Homo sapiens: one gene and its partner. The protein of the gene in region 1 binds, or shares a complex with, the protein of each later gene. Each region holds a gene or a part of one and is shown on either strand. Other genes may lie near its edges. A codon is read from its position in the direction of its gene.

Region 1 (7,019 bases):
TCTAGACGTTATCAATCAAATGTATATTTATTAGTAGTAGTAATGGACATAATTATATTAAATAAGTATGATGGATTTCTGACTCCTTTCAAACTTAGAGAATATACGTAAAACTCGTAACAGTGAAAAACATCAGTGTATATTTTGCTGGAAATAAATCGTTAACATTCTGCTCAAGAAAATTAAATCTACTCAAACAAGAAAAAACATCAACCTAAAGAAAAAGTGAGATGGTTCTCACATTATTACTAAGTAAAAATATATACAAACTGTAAAGCCTTACATTTTCACTTTTTGAATCTCTCTCATTCCTAGAACAAGGAAAGTGTAGTACAAGAACCAGACAATTTTTTTCCACTTGTTTATCTTCCATTTGTTGGACATGATATATACCAACCTTTCTTTGGTAGTCCCCTTCCTTTCCCAGATCTGGATCGCCTATCCAGCAACCTTCCCTTTGGACTGGTTGGCACAGTTAATCCACTTCTAAGGGCGTCACTCCCACTGTCGCTGACCGAATCGCCTCTGCCAGAGTCCCGGGATGAGTTTTTCCTTAGTCGCCTTTTTGCCTTGGCATTAATTCTAGCTTCGTTAATGGAGGATGCTGAAATCCAATTTCCATTTATTTCATTCTTTATTTCCTCAGTCCCAGCATTTTCTTCATCACCGGAAAAGAGAGAGTCACTTAAGTTATCAGGATCTTAAAGAGAAAAATGAAGAAAAAAATTCTAAGTATTTTAAGTATCTACTGTTTTATAGATATAGTGGTAAGTTAGATTAGGTTGAATCACATGACATTACCATTTTTGTAGGTAAATTACAGTCACATATTGGGAATTTCATCTACTTCAATCTAATAAACAACTAAATAAGATTACTTTTCACATTATCAAGGAAAGTAAACCAAGGCACTGAATTTTAACAAAGCATGTTTGTTTCTTACCAAAAACAAACCAAATTTGTTTGTTTTTACCAAAAGAAGCATGTTATTTCACGTTTAGATCATAAAATCTATGCTAACAGCAACACCAAATATAAAACCCTTAGACTTTTATGAGCTAATTGGAGATATTAAGAAAAGACAAAGCATCTTGAGAAGAGAGATAAACTAATATTTATAGAATGCCTACTATTAGGCACTGTGCTAGACACTCTATCATTTATTTATGCACAAGTTTGGCAGTTAATTATTATAACATTGAAGACAGATAAGGAAACTAAGGCTGAGAATGTTTAAATGATTTGCCAAACGTCCCATAACTAGGTATAAACACTTAAGAACTATTAGTAATCCAAAAGAGAATGAAAGGCATTTAGCAAATAATCGCATATGATTGTTGAGCTGAACTGCTGATGCTTTACTGCCTCAAGACAAAGTTTGCTTTCAAGAAAAGCCAACATCTCAAAGTCCTAATTCATCTCCCTAAACTTTTCTCCTATTACTTACCATCCTGTAAATCTTCCAGCCTATATAAAATTGATTCTTCTGAAAGAGATCAACATACTGGAGTTCCCAGTAGAATGTCGCCCTCACTGTTATTTTCAGTTATCAAAATCCTTTAGGATATAGCCCAAGTCTTACTCCCTGCATTAAAACTTCCCTTACAACTCTAGGTACAGGAACACTAATTGCTCACATACTATTCATTCAACACGTCATGGAAATCACTTTCTTTTTATATAGCAGTCTTTTTCTTCCAACTAAGTCATAAGCTTCAAAGGAGAAACCACAACTAGACTGTATGTCCTTCTTTGTATCCCCATCACCTAGCAGAGTGTCCTTCATACTCAAATTCCATGGAGATCAAGTGGAGGCACTTGGCTTTGCCCTGAAAGCTCTTTAAGTCAGAAAGGCTACTGAATTAGCTACCACTGGGCCACAGTTTTGTTCATTATTGTTAACGCAAATCAGAGCTGAATCACTCAAATCATTTTCTATATGCCTAAAGATAATTATAACATGTCAGGTCTATGTGCATGGGCTTTAATATGTTTTAAGACATGTTGAAACCAAAAATTTTCACCAACCTATAAAAAGCATACATGTGTTTAAATCTTTACAATTCTTGACATACTTAGGAAGGTAGGAATGTTTTGTTTTAAACAAAATCATCAATTAGAGCCAAATTATTTCACTAGTCTCATAAGTAGTCTCCCTGCCTCCAGTCTTCAAACTATACTGAATGAAGACTGATTTTCTCAAGCATGCCCTCACTGAAGATCCTTTAAAAGTAGTCCCATTATGTCACAAAAAATGTAAACTTTTTTTTTTTTTTTTTTGAGACAGCGTGTCGCTCTGTCACCCAGGCTGGAGTGCAGTGGTGCAATCTCAGCTCACTGCAAGCTCTGCCTCCCGGGTTCACGCCATTCTCCTGCCCCAGCTGGGACTACAGATGCCTGCCACTACGCCTGGCTAATTTTTTTGTGTTTTTAGTACAGATGGGGTCACCGTGTTAGCCAGGATGGTCTTGATCTCCTGACCTCGTGATCCACCTACGTCGGCCTCCCAAAGTGCTGGGATTACAGGCGTGAGCCACCGCACCCAGCCAAAATGTAAACTCTTTACCTTGTAACTTAAGGTCCTTTATGATCTTGCCCCTGCTTACCTCACCAGAATCACTGCTAACTACTCCCACACTCAAATTGTCAGAGCTTAAGTTAGATATCATAGGGAAGAGATGGGAGGGATTCATTTGGCAGAAGAATACTGAGTATATTACAAAAAGAGAAAGTATAAAGTAGGAAACCGCTAAGAAAATGCTTCAGTAATTCAGTCACAAGCTAACTGGTAAAGAGCAAGGGTAGTAACTGTGGGATAAATAATAATGTTACACTTTTAAAGAAAATAATGAAGGACTTTTAAGCAGAATGTATCTAGGATTAAAGAGAAGTCAAACAATGCCTTAAAAGTTTTCAAACTGGTAAGAAGCCGGTGTTAGGATGGTGTGTTTGGGACATCATCATAACCATCAGTAGTAATTATAGTCTTAGTGGAAGTAGTCGTAGTACTGTTTCTTTCATCATTACCATTACTATTGTCATCTATTAGATACCAGGTTCCACACTACCTGGTACCTATTAGATTCCACACTACCTGGTACCTATTAGCTAAGGCACTTTACATATGTGGTCTATAAGCTTCAAGAGCTCTAGAAAGAAACTGTTTATCCTCATTTTACAGAAGGAATGTGTTTCACAAGAAGTTACATATCTAGAAAGGATTATGGCTAGAATTCAAACCCACATTTTTAATCCCATATAACTACAGAAAATACAAAACTAGAATACAGCAGAGTATTGACAGCTAAAGAGACGAACAAGGGCGTGAATGTAAAGAGAGATAAACAAAAATGATTAAGTGGAAGGGGACAGAAAGATCAGGATCACATAAATTAGATGACATTTTCGTGTAAGAGTGGATGGTTGAGAAAAACATTAAACATCTACCTGTAACATAGTGCTTTCATCATTGTGCCATTAAGGTGAACCACAAAACTGGTCCAGAAGACACAGGAGTCAGAACTATAATAAAATGTCTTAAACTGTCCCTTGGAGTATTCAATTTAAATACATCTATTTCCCATAATCGAGTTTTCTTTTCTTCAACAATTTTAACATCCTTTCAAGTATGTTTGTGTCTCTGCAGCAGTAAACATTCTCTCAGTATAATTTATATATTTGACCTTATCATTTTTAACCCATGTTTGTATTAATTGCTTTATATTTTGTTACTCATACTCACCTAACTGTTGGAGTTCCATAACCCCTATTGAGCTGACTTTAAGAAAACCAAAATTAAAATGATAAGCTGAGTACAGAATGTGATTGACTTCAAAATTGTTTCCTACTGTGTACTAATTCCCTCTTTCTGAATTCTGATATCTCAATAGTAACCACTCCAATTGTATATGACCACAGCACCAGAAAATCACATTTTCAATTACTGGTGTCCAATGAGTGGCATAATTAGAATAACATTACCACACTTTCATGTATTACATACCTAGTATGTGCTTCACAGACTTAACACACATATACAATATCTCACTAAATCCTAATTATAAATCTATACAGAGGGTATTTATATCCCAATTTTATACATGAAAAAACTGAAGGTCAGAATAACCTACTTCCTCCAAGTAAAAGAGTAAGAGTGTGACTTGGACTATTTGCTATGTGAAGAATTTACTACAAAGAGGGTCTATCTTAGGCCTATTCAAATATTGAAGAACAAGTCTTTTATTTTAAAGCAGTGCTGGACACAAGCACCAAGAACAGGGTTAGAACTAGGTCTTATTGTAGTTAGGAAACAAAAAGTACACATTTTAAAGCTGTGTTTCTATTTCTAATAGAAATAGAATGCAAGCCATATAAGAAATTTTAAATTTTCCAGTAGCCACATTAAAAAGTAAAAACAGGTGAAATTAATTTAAATATATTTTATTTAATCTAATATAACCATATCATCTCAACATGCAAGCAATATAACAAATTATTGAGATAGTTGACCTTCATCTCAACTCAGAGTAGCCACATTTCAAGTACTCAACAAACACATGTGGCTAAGCACAGTGGTGCACACGCCTGTAATCCAGCTACTGAGGAGGCTGAAGAGGGAGGATCACTTGAGCCCAGGAGTAATAACCACATGTAGCTAGTGGTCACCATACTGGACAGTGCAGAAAAGAAGCAATTACCTATATGTAAAATATATTCTAAACTGTATTACCATCCCCATCTCAATTAAGTAGGTACATATTATCCATTTATAACCCTAAAGCATACTCATACAGCTATTGTATACAGCAGCACAGAAATGATCATTAATTACATAAATTTTTTTCAATTTTTTACCATACTTTAAAAAGATCTGTAAATAAACAATGGTAAAGAAGCTTCAAATTCAACATGTTTGTTCAGATCAAAGAAAACTATGTACATTGTAAACAATAGTGAGTTAAGTCACTGAGGAAAGAAAGATGTAGTATTTAGTTACGAAATACACTTAAAATGACAGAAAATAGCTTTCAATATTAATAAAATTATAAGACAAAGAATTATCCAAAGTATACCAATATGAACTGTTCTCACTATTCAGATATTACACAATTCTAATTAACTTTTTGGGAGATTATTTTTAAAACTATAAATACATTTTAAATTATCTTGAGTTACTCACATTTGGTCATCTATTCCACAAAACTGTTCATTTTTATGATAATAACATGCTATTGAAGCACCATGGAGAATTAGGGAAAATACCCTAGGTAATTTAGAATATAAAAATTATTTGTTAGGAAAGATACCAAAGATACCAGTAAGTTTATATTACAGAAATCACTAACTAGCCCATGTGAAAATAAGCAGGCTCACTATTCTTCTCTATTCTGTACTATATAACAGAGAATAGGAATATGTGGAATGTGAAAGGATAGGCAGAAAAATAGGACATGTAATGAATTTCCATGAAAATAAAAATCACAAACTTGACTTTAAAAATAATATAGCCTGTTTTCTTACAGCATGAATAAAAGAGTATTTAAAGATAGTTTTTCTATCATGTTTTTATAAAATATGGAATGGTCTGAAGCTTCCTCACAACATAGTCAAGCTTCAAGATATTTCAGCCTAGGCAACATAGTGAAATCCTATCTCTACAAAAAATAAAAAATTAGCCTGGTGTGGTGGCACACACCTGTTGTCCCAGCTGCTGAGGAGGCTGAGATAGGGGAGGATCTCTTAAGCCCAGGAAAGTCAAAACTGCAGTGAGCCATGATCACACCACTGCACTCCAGCCTGGGTGACAGAGCAAGATCCTGTCTCAAAACGAAGAAAAAAAGAAAAAAGGATATCCTTACTTACCTGCAGGGTTTACATTCAGTATCTGCTCATTTTCTACATCCATTTTCCCTTAATTTCGCTTGCACTGATTAAACAAATTACCTAATGGAAATCTTCCTTCAGAATCTGTTTTTTTAAAAGAAAAAAAGAAAGCTTCAAGATCTTTTAAACTGATGTAATTAAGCTGAATTAAACTTACTTAAGCACACTGTAAAAACAAACGACAACAACAAAAAACACACAATTCCATTAAATAAAACAGTTCACTTTACTTTCAAAGACAACTTACCCTAATTAACATTTGGTTCCAATCTTTTTGATAAATTTATCAAAGTCAAAAAAAAAAATCCCAGATTTCAGCATGTGCCAAAGCACCCCTTTAATTGGAATTAAAAGATATGTTTGTGATACATGTTTACGTCAAGTTAAAGAAATACACACATCCAAATCTTTTAGGAATACCAAGCCTCAAAATTAATCTGATATACATACATAGGAATATAAATACTGGATAGTTCCCTACCAATGAATTATGAGAACTACTCCAAAATAAAAACAACACAGTTTTAGTTAATAAAGAATATCACATGACTGTGTTATTTTTCACATTACGGCATATCTGAAAGGCAGATATATCTGCCACTCATTACCTAGGTCTCTATAATTACTAGAATAAGACTTTGGGAGAAACTTTTAAAATCAGCTTTTTTGATAATATTATTTATATGAGAAATCCTTTTTTGATAATATTATTTATATGAGAAATCCATTTTTTAAAAATCTGATCATTTCAGAAAGGAGTAAGTACAACGACATAAGCATTTCAGTATTTTAGGCCTCAGTTTCAAAATGGCTTAAAAATTATTAATACTGGAAGGTTTGATGAAATCAGTTACCTTTTAGACAATTAACTTAGTGATACAGATCCAATAATGTTATATGAAAGAAATATCAAAATAGTTTTCAAAAAATATATTACCAGAAAGTGCAACCAAATTAAGATTTCAGAATCTCTCTAGAAGTATTTTTTAAATAGTGGTTTAGAGTACTTAAGTGTATGTTTAAGTCACATAGGTTGGATATAAGTCCTTCTGGTCATTTACAATCAGGTTGCTAGCAGTGTGCTCTTCAGAGATATAAAATGCACAAATTAGTGAAAATGCCTAATAAATTAATTA
Region 2 (7,937 bases), on another chromosome or scaffold:
CACTCCTGCCATAGGACCCAAGCTACGAGGCATGTTCACTCTGAGAAAACTGAGAGCCAAGTGCCTTAGAATGGAGCTCTGCTGTAACTTCTTACATTATCCACACCCAGAATAATCACTGCCCCTGCCACAGAACATTTAAAAACATGCTCTGACATCAGTGTTGCAGCATGACCCAGGAAAAAGTCCAGCATTAGAATTGTGTGTGCCCCAGGCATGAAACAGCTCTGGCTATTAAGCAAGGGTGAAAAGGACTGTCCATCTGCTCTGACTACTGTAAGATCACCCCCACACCAAGGGATCTCTTAGCCCATAGTGAAGGTGCTTATTCAGAACACAGTCAAACTTGCCCAGCCAGCCAGGCTTCACCCAACAGCTTTCCCATTTGACTCAGGAAATGGGTGGAGGAAGCAATGGTTACGTTTGGGTAAGAAATAGCTTTTAATTAACCCAGCAGGTCTCGAGAGTGTTAGGGCACCCATGTCTTCCTCCCAAGGTGGTGATCAGAGAAGACTTCTCTGGTCCTTGGATTATACTCATCATCCCTAAATCAGCCCTGAAGGAGGGAATAGAAGCCACTCTTACCTGCTGAGCCAATTCTCGAGTGGGTGCTAGGACCAAGGCCTGGGTGGCTTTTAGATCTAATTCAATCTGCTGCAGAATCGATATGGCAAATGTGGCCGTTTTCCCAGTCCCAGATTGGGCTTGAGCAATCACATCATAACCTAAACAAATAAATTAGGAGTTGAATGTGGTAAAGAGCATACCCTTTGGGATATTCAAGTCCTAGGTTAATGAGGTCAATAAGCAACCAATGAACCAAGCATTTCATGGCTCACAAACTACCTTCCCAATCAACACAGTTACACAATGGGAACCAGATCAGAAACAAGGACCAGTTATTAACTCATCTAGTATTGCACACCAAGCTGGACTAGAAACATGGCTGTAGATGCAAATATAAGCTGGCTACAATACCACCTCTTTAAAGGAAACCTATGTGTCCAAGGCATGAACCAGGCATGGGCACGGATCAAAAGCCAAGCTGGGATGAACAAGGAGTTGCTTTGTCCCTGGCTGATATGAGATGGGCATCACCAACCAGATGCCACTCTACCCAGGTCAGGGACAGTCCACAATGTCTTCTGGGACTGAGAGGTCTCACCCTTGATACAAGGTAGAATGGCTCGCTGCTGGATGGCAGAGGGCTTCTCAAAACCATACGCGTAGATGCCACGGAGAAGGGACTCCGAGAGGTTCATGTCATCAAAGCTGTCAACAATCTCATTCCAGTTACTCTAGGGGATGCAAAGAAATTAAAGCTTGAGTCATGGAAAAGGTGGAGCTGAGCTGTAGTCTCCGAGCAAACAGAATCTGGTGCCTACTAACAAAAGCCTCAGAGCTTACAACCCTCCTCCCTTTAGGGAAACCAGCTGCTTCTAGATGATCTGGGAAATCAATCAAGAGGCCACTCTAACTCTATACGGCTGAAAGTTGTAATGGGGGAGGACAGAATTCCATTTCTCCAGTCTCACCTCGATGACGCCTTCGGGCTCCATCCCATCGGGGCCATTGTCTCTGGATCTGTTGGTTTAAAGCATAAGTTTTGTCCCCTGCCCGACCGAAGCACTCAGAAATCCTGACAGCCGGGCTCTGTCAGGAGTGGCCTGCATGATGCCATCAATCTGCTGTCCCAGATCCAACTCCCACCAGCTCCCAAAAAATACCCAAAGGAGGAGTTTCTATAAAACTGAGGCATTTGCCCCATGCAGGCAGCGGCTCAGGCCAGGCCACCCCCGACATAAGGGGGTGACCCTTTCTGAAGACAGGCCGGCAGGCGTGCCGCCGCGCTCACGGTGCCCAGAGGTGGTGCTTGCCGCCGGGTCCACGTGGGCCCGACCCAGCCGCTTAAAGCCCAAGCGCGTGCACCTCCCACCGCAGCACCAGCGCGCTGGAAGTCCCGCCCTTCACCTCCCAGATCGGAGGGTAGGACATCCCCTTCCCCCCACGTCATCCCGCCCGCGCCCTCCCCCACTCCCTCCAGCCGAAGCCCCCCCCTCGCGTTGCCCGGATGTGGGAGGCCGCGGGCGGTGGCGGCCTCGCGCACAATGAGCCCAAGCCGAGCTAGCAAAGGGGGAGATTGCACAACACTTAGAAGCGAAGCAGACTGGGGGAGGGGAACGCCTCAGGCCACCATGTGCTCGCTCCCTCGACCACCCGGCGGCGTCTCCCACCCCTCCATGAACAATCCACATCCCGCCCGCCCCCGTCGCGAAGTAGCGTCGCCCTCCCATACCTCAGGCCGCTCACCCCCGAAGGAAGGTGGACCTGCCCATCCGCAGTTTGCCAATAGCCCGGCTTGTGCGGCAAAATGGACCCGCCCGCCCGGCGCCGGGTGGGCTCCTGGTGCCTCACGCGGCCGCTCCTCGGGGTTAGGCTCAGTCCTGGCCGTCAAGAAAACCAGCACACTGAACGGCCGGTTTCTTCTCCCCGACCCGTGTTTTAGCCGCGACGAAGTGACTGGATCTAAGGACCAGGCACCCCCGCCTCTCGCGAGTGGTACCGTCAGAATGCTCCGGAACCCCGCGCGCCGTCCCTCCCCCGGCACAGGGAGGCAACCGGACCTGCCGGCTCTGGGCCACACATAGTGGCGGCCGCCTCCACCTTTCTTTCCCACGCCAGGTCGCGACCCCGTCTCGCCACTCAGCGCCGGGGCTTCGCGCATGGCACCGCCTCGGGTCGAGGCCTCGTAACAGACCTCGCACGCCTGACCCTAGCCGGGCTGTCCCTACCCTCCGCCTCGACCTGGTGGCCGCGTCGGCCGTGGGTCTTCCCCCTCGCCCCTCCAAGTCGGACCCTCCCCCCACCCGGTTCGGTTTCTCCCGCAACCCTGGTGGGCCTCTCAGCTACCCCCGGCGGGCCCGTCGGAAGGGGGCGGCAAAATAAGCAGCCACAATCTCTTGCAAATGCCTTTCTTACCGGGAATCCTGGCTCGCAGACATGATCCTTAGAAACTAGGGCGGAGTGCCCGCCTATCGACAACTTATAGAGCGCCCGACTCCGCCCCGGCCATCGCATTGGTTTGGCCGCCCCGGCCCCGCCTGCCGGCGCTCAGCAACTCGGCATGACGTTAGTTCCTAGTCGCTCCGGCCCGCAGGCACCATTGGATAACTCGAGTGCCTATCAAGGTGAAGGCCCGCCCCGCAGCCTCATTGGCTGGAGGGCCCGCCTTTCTCGCCGGTACGGAAGTGACATAGAAGAGTCAGGCCTCGAGGCCTGGCAGCCATCTTGGGGCCCTGCACTCTCACACGTGCGGAGGCGACAGTGCCTTGGTCATGTGGCTCCGTAGGCCCTATCACGCAAGGGGGGCGAGGTCTCAGCCTCCAGAGGCTTCCGGGCTCTGGGGGTTATCACTTCCCTTTACTTCTGCTCCCGGTCTCCACTGGACTCAAATGTTATTTGTTTTCCCCTGTAGCAGAGATGGATTCGACACTGCCTGGACGTGTGCCAGGGATGAAGGAATCAACAGCGATATCGTAGGGATGGGAGGATTCCCCTGGCTGGATGGTGGAGGGATGGAAGAAAACTGTAAAGGGCTTTGGGGTACTATCATGAATCCTGGTTGGTCCCCTCCCCAGTCCCTTGTGTCCAGTTCCCCAGCTTCCCTCTCGGATGCCCTTATTCTTGAGGCTTATCTACTTTCCCTCCTTCCTGCTCTCTGCTCCCATCTCGGGGATTTGTTTGGGTGAAGACAAGGTGTTGGCAGTGCCTGAGCCAGGGATGGAAAGCTGAACCCTTTAGTCTCAAGAGACTGGCTGGAAGGTCTGAGCTAAGCATATCCACTAATTTGAAGCCCCTTAAGGAAGACCACCACTTACGTATCAACAAAGGATCCTTTATTGACCAGAGCAGGACCGTGGCATTTATATATTTTTATATATATATATATATATATATATATATATATATATATATATATATATATATATATATATATATATATATAAAAGTTTGAAGATCTGGCAGGCAGTGATCCTATTGTCCGCCCACCACCCCCAGCACTGATTTCCTGCTCCCTGCACGGGGAAGGGGGAGGATGACTGCTCCACCCAGGCCACAGGGCCACACTCCCCTGCAAACAGAGGAAGAAAGGGGCTTTTCTGTAGCCACCCCCTGCACATCAGAAATCAACAAGTATTCTCTCAAAGAAAAAAAAATACAGAAATTGAAACATTTAAATATGAAAAACCAAAGGGAAGTGAGTGGGAAGAGGCAAGAGAGGAAAGGAACTGGAGTTTCTTGGGAAGGGACTCCCATGTCTCCCTTCCCATTTATGGGCTTGGGGTCTGGGGTACGAGGCTCACACAGTGAGTTTGCAGTGACACAGCTCCTTGTAGATCTGCCGACGAAGTTTGGGCATGTCCTGCTGGGTGAAGCTGAATGGCTGAGACAGGGCCAGATGCTTGCAGTACTGGGTGTTAACAAAGCAAGCCATGAGAAACCCCCCGTGTCAGGACCTGTGCTACACATTTCATATGAGATGTGTCTCCATCCTTCAGAGAACATCCCCAAAGGGAGCCAGGGTCCCACAGCCTGGGGTTCAAAAACAGCCTGACTCTAAAGCTAGTGTTCTTACTTGATAGAATGTTTTAGATGGAGAAAATACACTGAGTTGGAGGTTAGCAGGGAGCTCTATGAAGGCCAGAGGCCCAAGACTAGAGACCCAGTCCCAATGTGGGATGGAGAAGTCCAGAAGAGAACCAGTGAAGCCAGTGTTTTGGTGTTCTAAAACAGATTACTTCCTGCTCCACAACTGACTATGAGCCAAATGAGGGGATGCATAACAGCCTCCCGACCCTTTAACCCAACTGACTTCAGAGCTAGGGGAGGTGGCCCCATCATCTGCTTACCTGCAACACAAAAGCACCACAGTCACTGTCATTATTCTGCCTGGCCACATTCTAGAGAAGAGAAAGAAAGCAGGCCCTTCACATGGAGACTCCCAGGGGTAGGACTTCAATTTCTGCCTTCTACCACTGTCCCCACCAACACCCTATACCCCTCCCTCAGGAAACTCACCATTTTGAAGTAACCTTTCCAGCCCTGGTGGAAATCCAGTCGGTCTTTCTTTACCGCCTCTGCCTGTAGATACTTGGCAATATGCTATGTGGATGGGGGAAAAGAAAGTGATGCCCTAAGTTTCTCAATTGAACACAGTATGGTGGGTACAGTGCTGGCAGACACCATGCCCAGGTCGCCCCTCAAAGACCCAAAGCCCACCCTTCTTCCTGCAATGCCTTGCCACTGCACCGCCCCACATTTTGCCCATCTCTCTCCTACCCCCTCAAACCTTAGGGCAGCGGCGGTTTAGGGTACGCTGCGAGTCAAAATAGGTGATGGTGCGTCGCCTCACATCAACAGAGATGAGGGACCAATGCACCTCCAGGTGGATGGGGATTAGCAGTAGCTCCTTATTGAAGATGTCCACCTAAAGAGATAGTGCCACAGGTCAGGTACAACAAACAGAAGTCTTGCCTTTTGCCATGAAGGTTCTAGAGAGGAACAGAGACACAGGTAAGGGAACCAAGTGAAAGAACAGAAGACCCAAGGCCTAGATTGTGGGCAAGCTCAGGATCTGCATGTTTCGGTTCTTCGGGGTAAGGGAGGAAGGTCAGACAATGGAGGAGACATCAGAACGAACACTGGAGAACCCATGATGGGCAGGCGCTTTTCACACTTTAAAGGGAGAAGCACTTAGCAGCTAAGAACCCAGGCCCAGGATTCTGGAGCCTGCCAGAATTCAAATACAGCTCCTCCATTTACTGGCTTATGACAGTGGGCAACCTACTTAATAACCTTCTATACCTCAGTTTCCTTATCTGTCAGAGAGTGTAAATAGTAGTACCTACACCTCATCCATTTGATATGAGGATTAAACTAGTGACTATCCATAATACACTTAGAACAAGACACAGCACAAAGTAAACACGCAGTTAATGCTCATAACAATCCTACCGGGAAGTTCTCAACATTCAACCTAACAGATGAGGAAATTGCAGCTTGGAAAGTCGTGACTTGCACAAGGTCATGAAAGAAAGAAATGGCAGAAGTGGGACTCAAACTCAGTATGAAGAAGGCCAACATGTTTTTCACTGTACGTCACCACCCTTCCCTCTACTGCAAGAAGATCCCTGAGGGTGTAAGCTCTTGATTTTGAGGACTGAAATTAAGGAATGCCGGAGCCAATCATCCTGCCTAGCTGTAGAAATTTCCTGGCCTTTGAATGGGAGGGCAGGGAAACCAGAAGAGAAAAGAACTCTTCATTTTCCTCCCCCAACCTGTTCCTCTCCCACTTTTCCCGTTACATAGGCCAAAAACCTAGGCATCATCCTCCATTTCTTTTTCTTCATTTCCCACATCCAACCTGCGGAGGAAAAAACAAATCTTTTTTTTTTTTTTGAGACGGAGTCTTGCTCTGTTGCCCAGACTGGAGTGCAGTGGCGTGATCTTGCCTCACTGCAAGCTCCACCTCCTGGGTTCATGCCATTCTCCTGCCTCAGCCTCCCAAGTAGCTTGGACTACAGACACGTGCCACCTCGCCCGGCTAATTTTTTGTATTTTTAGTAGAGACAGGGTTTCACTGTGTTAGCCAGGATGGTCTTGATCTCCTGACCTGGTGATCCGCCCGCCTCAGCCTCCCAAAGGGCTGGGATTACAGGCGTGAGCCACCGCGCCCGGCAAAAAAACAAATCTTCTTTCCTACTATACTCTCACAACACAAAATACTTCTGTAACCTGTGGTCACCAAGAAGTGTTTGTGGGGCTTTCTCTCCACCAACAACCAAGCAAGCAATTTTGCGGTGGACACAGCTGGGTATCCCCCAATTCAATTCCAACACTATCTACCTGGAGATAATGTGTCACAGGTTTAGGGCTCAGTCTCACAAGGCTGCCCCCAATTCTGATGCCAGTCCTAAGCCCCAGGTTGTTTTATCTGTGTTTCTCACCAACTGGTTAGATCAGCGTTCCCATGACCCCCTCCTTGAATTTGATTAATTTGCTAGAGCAGCTCACAGAACTCATGGAAACACATTTACCAGTTTATTAACAAAGGGTAGTACAAAGAGTACAGATGAAAAGATGCACAGGGAAAGGTACCGGGAAGAGGCCTGGAGACCATCCTGTGGGAGCCTCCATGCCTTCAGCTATCTAGAATGTCTCCAAACTCCTCCTCTCGGGTTTTTTTTTCTTTTTTGAGACAGAGTTTCACTCTGTCACCCAGGGTGGAGTGCAGTGGCACAATCTCGGCTCACTGCAACCTCTGCCTCCCGGGTTCAAGCGATTCTCCTGCCTCAGCCTCCCGGGGACTACAGGCGCACGCCACCACGCCCAGCTAATTTTCATATTTTTAGTAGAGACAGGGTTTCGCCAGGTCGGCCAGGCTGGTCTCAATCTCTTGACCTTGCGATCCATCTGCCTCAGCCTCCCAAAGTGCCGGGAGTACAGGCGTGAGCCGCCGCACCCGGCCCCTTTCCGGTTTTTAGAGGCTTCACTACTAGGCATGACTGATTAAATCACTGATCCTCAGTGATTGCCTTAACCTTTGGCCCCATTCCCCTCCCAGGAAGTTGGTGGGGGTGAGGCTGAAAGTTCCAACCCTCTAATCATGAAGCCACCTAGAGGGGCTAGCCATGAATCAACTCATCAGCACACAAAAACACACATCACTGGAGATTCCAAGGATTTTAGAAGTTGAATGCCAGGAGCCTGGTCAGGAGACCAAATATGTATCTCTCAGTATCACAGAGCCTGTCAGTCCTACTGGTTTTACTCGTAAAATTTATCCTACATAAAACTACTCTCTCTCTCTTCCTTTAGCACTCCAGTTCAAGTTTCTCACCTGGACTACTGTGCTCTGTTCCTGCTTCCATTCTTGC

Evidence for each region. The genes of interacting proteins can lie anywhere in the genome.
Region 2: the proteins of PDCD4 (region 1) and EIF4A1 are in contact, whole or in part, in a crystal structure (PDB 2ZU6), measured with the Homo sapiens proteins. Residues at the interface, in NP_055271.2 of Homo sapiens: Pro170, Gln173, Glu174, Glu177, His178, Glu183, Glu186, Met187, Asp190, Leu209, Glu210, Lys212, Glu249, Leu250, Leu252, Asp253, Thr254, Pro255, Arg256, Gly320, Gln321, Gln322, Ser323, Val324, Leu327, Glu348, Lys352, Glu355, Val356, Pro357; in NP_001407.1 of Homo sapiens: Gln75 (codon at 708), Thr109 (codon at 606), Arg110 (codon at 603), Glu111 (codon at 600), Ile135, Gly137, Val140, Thr158, Gly160, Arg161, Asp164, Glu186, Leu188, Ser189, Arg190, Gly191, Phe192, Gln195, Ala214, Thr215, Met216, Pro217, Glu240, Leu241, Thr242, Asn280, Thr281, Arg282, Arg283, Thr329.

What each region holds. Positions count from the first base shown.
Region 1 is NC_000010.11:110,874,914-110,881,932, reverse strand, and holds part of PDCD4 (programmed cell death protein 4), read right to left. Parts: intron 5,968-7,019; 5' UTR 5,906-5,967; coding exon 5,863-5,905; intron 5,264-5,862; exon of another isoform or gene 5,190-5,263; coding exon of another isoform or gene 5,180-5,189; intron 701-5,179; coding exon 398-700; intron 1-397. UniProt on the Homo sapiens protein: Inhibits translation initiation and cap-dependent translation. May excert its function by hindering the interaction between EIF4A1 and EIF4G. Inhibits the helicase activity of EIF4A. Modulates the activation of JUN kinase.
Region 2 is NC_000017.11:7,567,907-7,575,843, reverse strand, and holds the start of EIF4A1 (eukaryotic initiation factor 4A-I), read right to left. Parts: upstream 3,020-7,937; 5' UTR 3,003-3,019; coding exon 2,980-3,002; intron 1,585-2,979; coding exon 1,536-1,584; intron 1,299-1,535; coding exon 1,166-1,298; intron 1,132-1,165; exon of another isoform or gene 997-1,131; intron 726-996; coding exon 586-725; intron 1-585. Other genes in the region: SENP3 (sentrin-specific protease 3), read right to left, coding at 4,361-4,471, 4,911-4,961, 5,080-5,163, 5,351-5,488. UniProt on the Homo sapiens protein: ATP-dependent RNA helicase which is a subunit of the eIF4F complex involved in cap recognition and is required for mRNA binding to ribosome.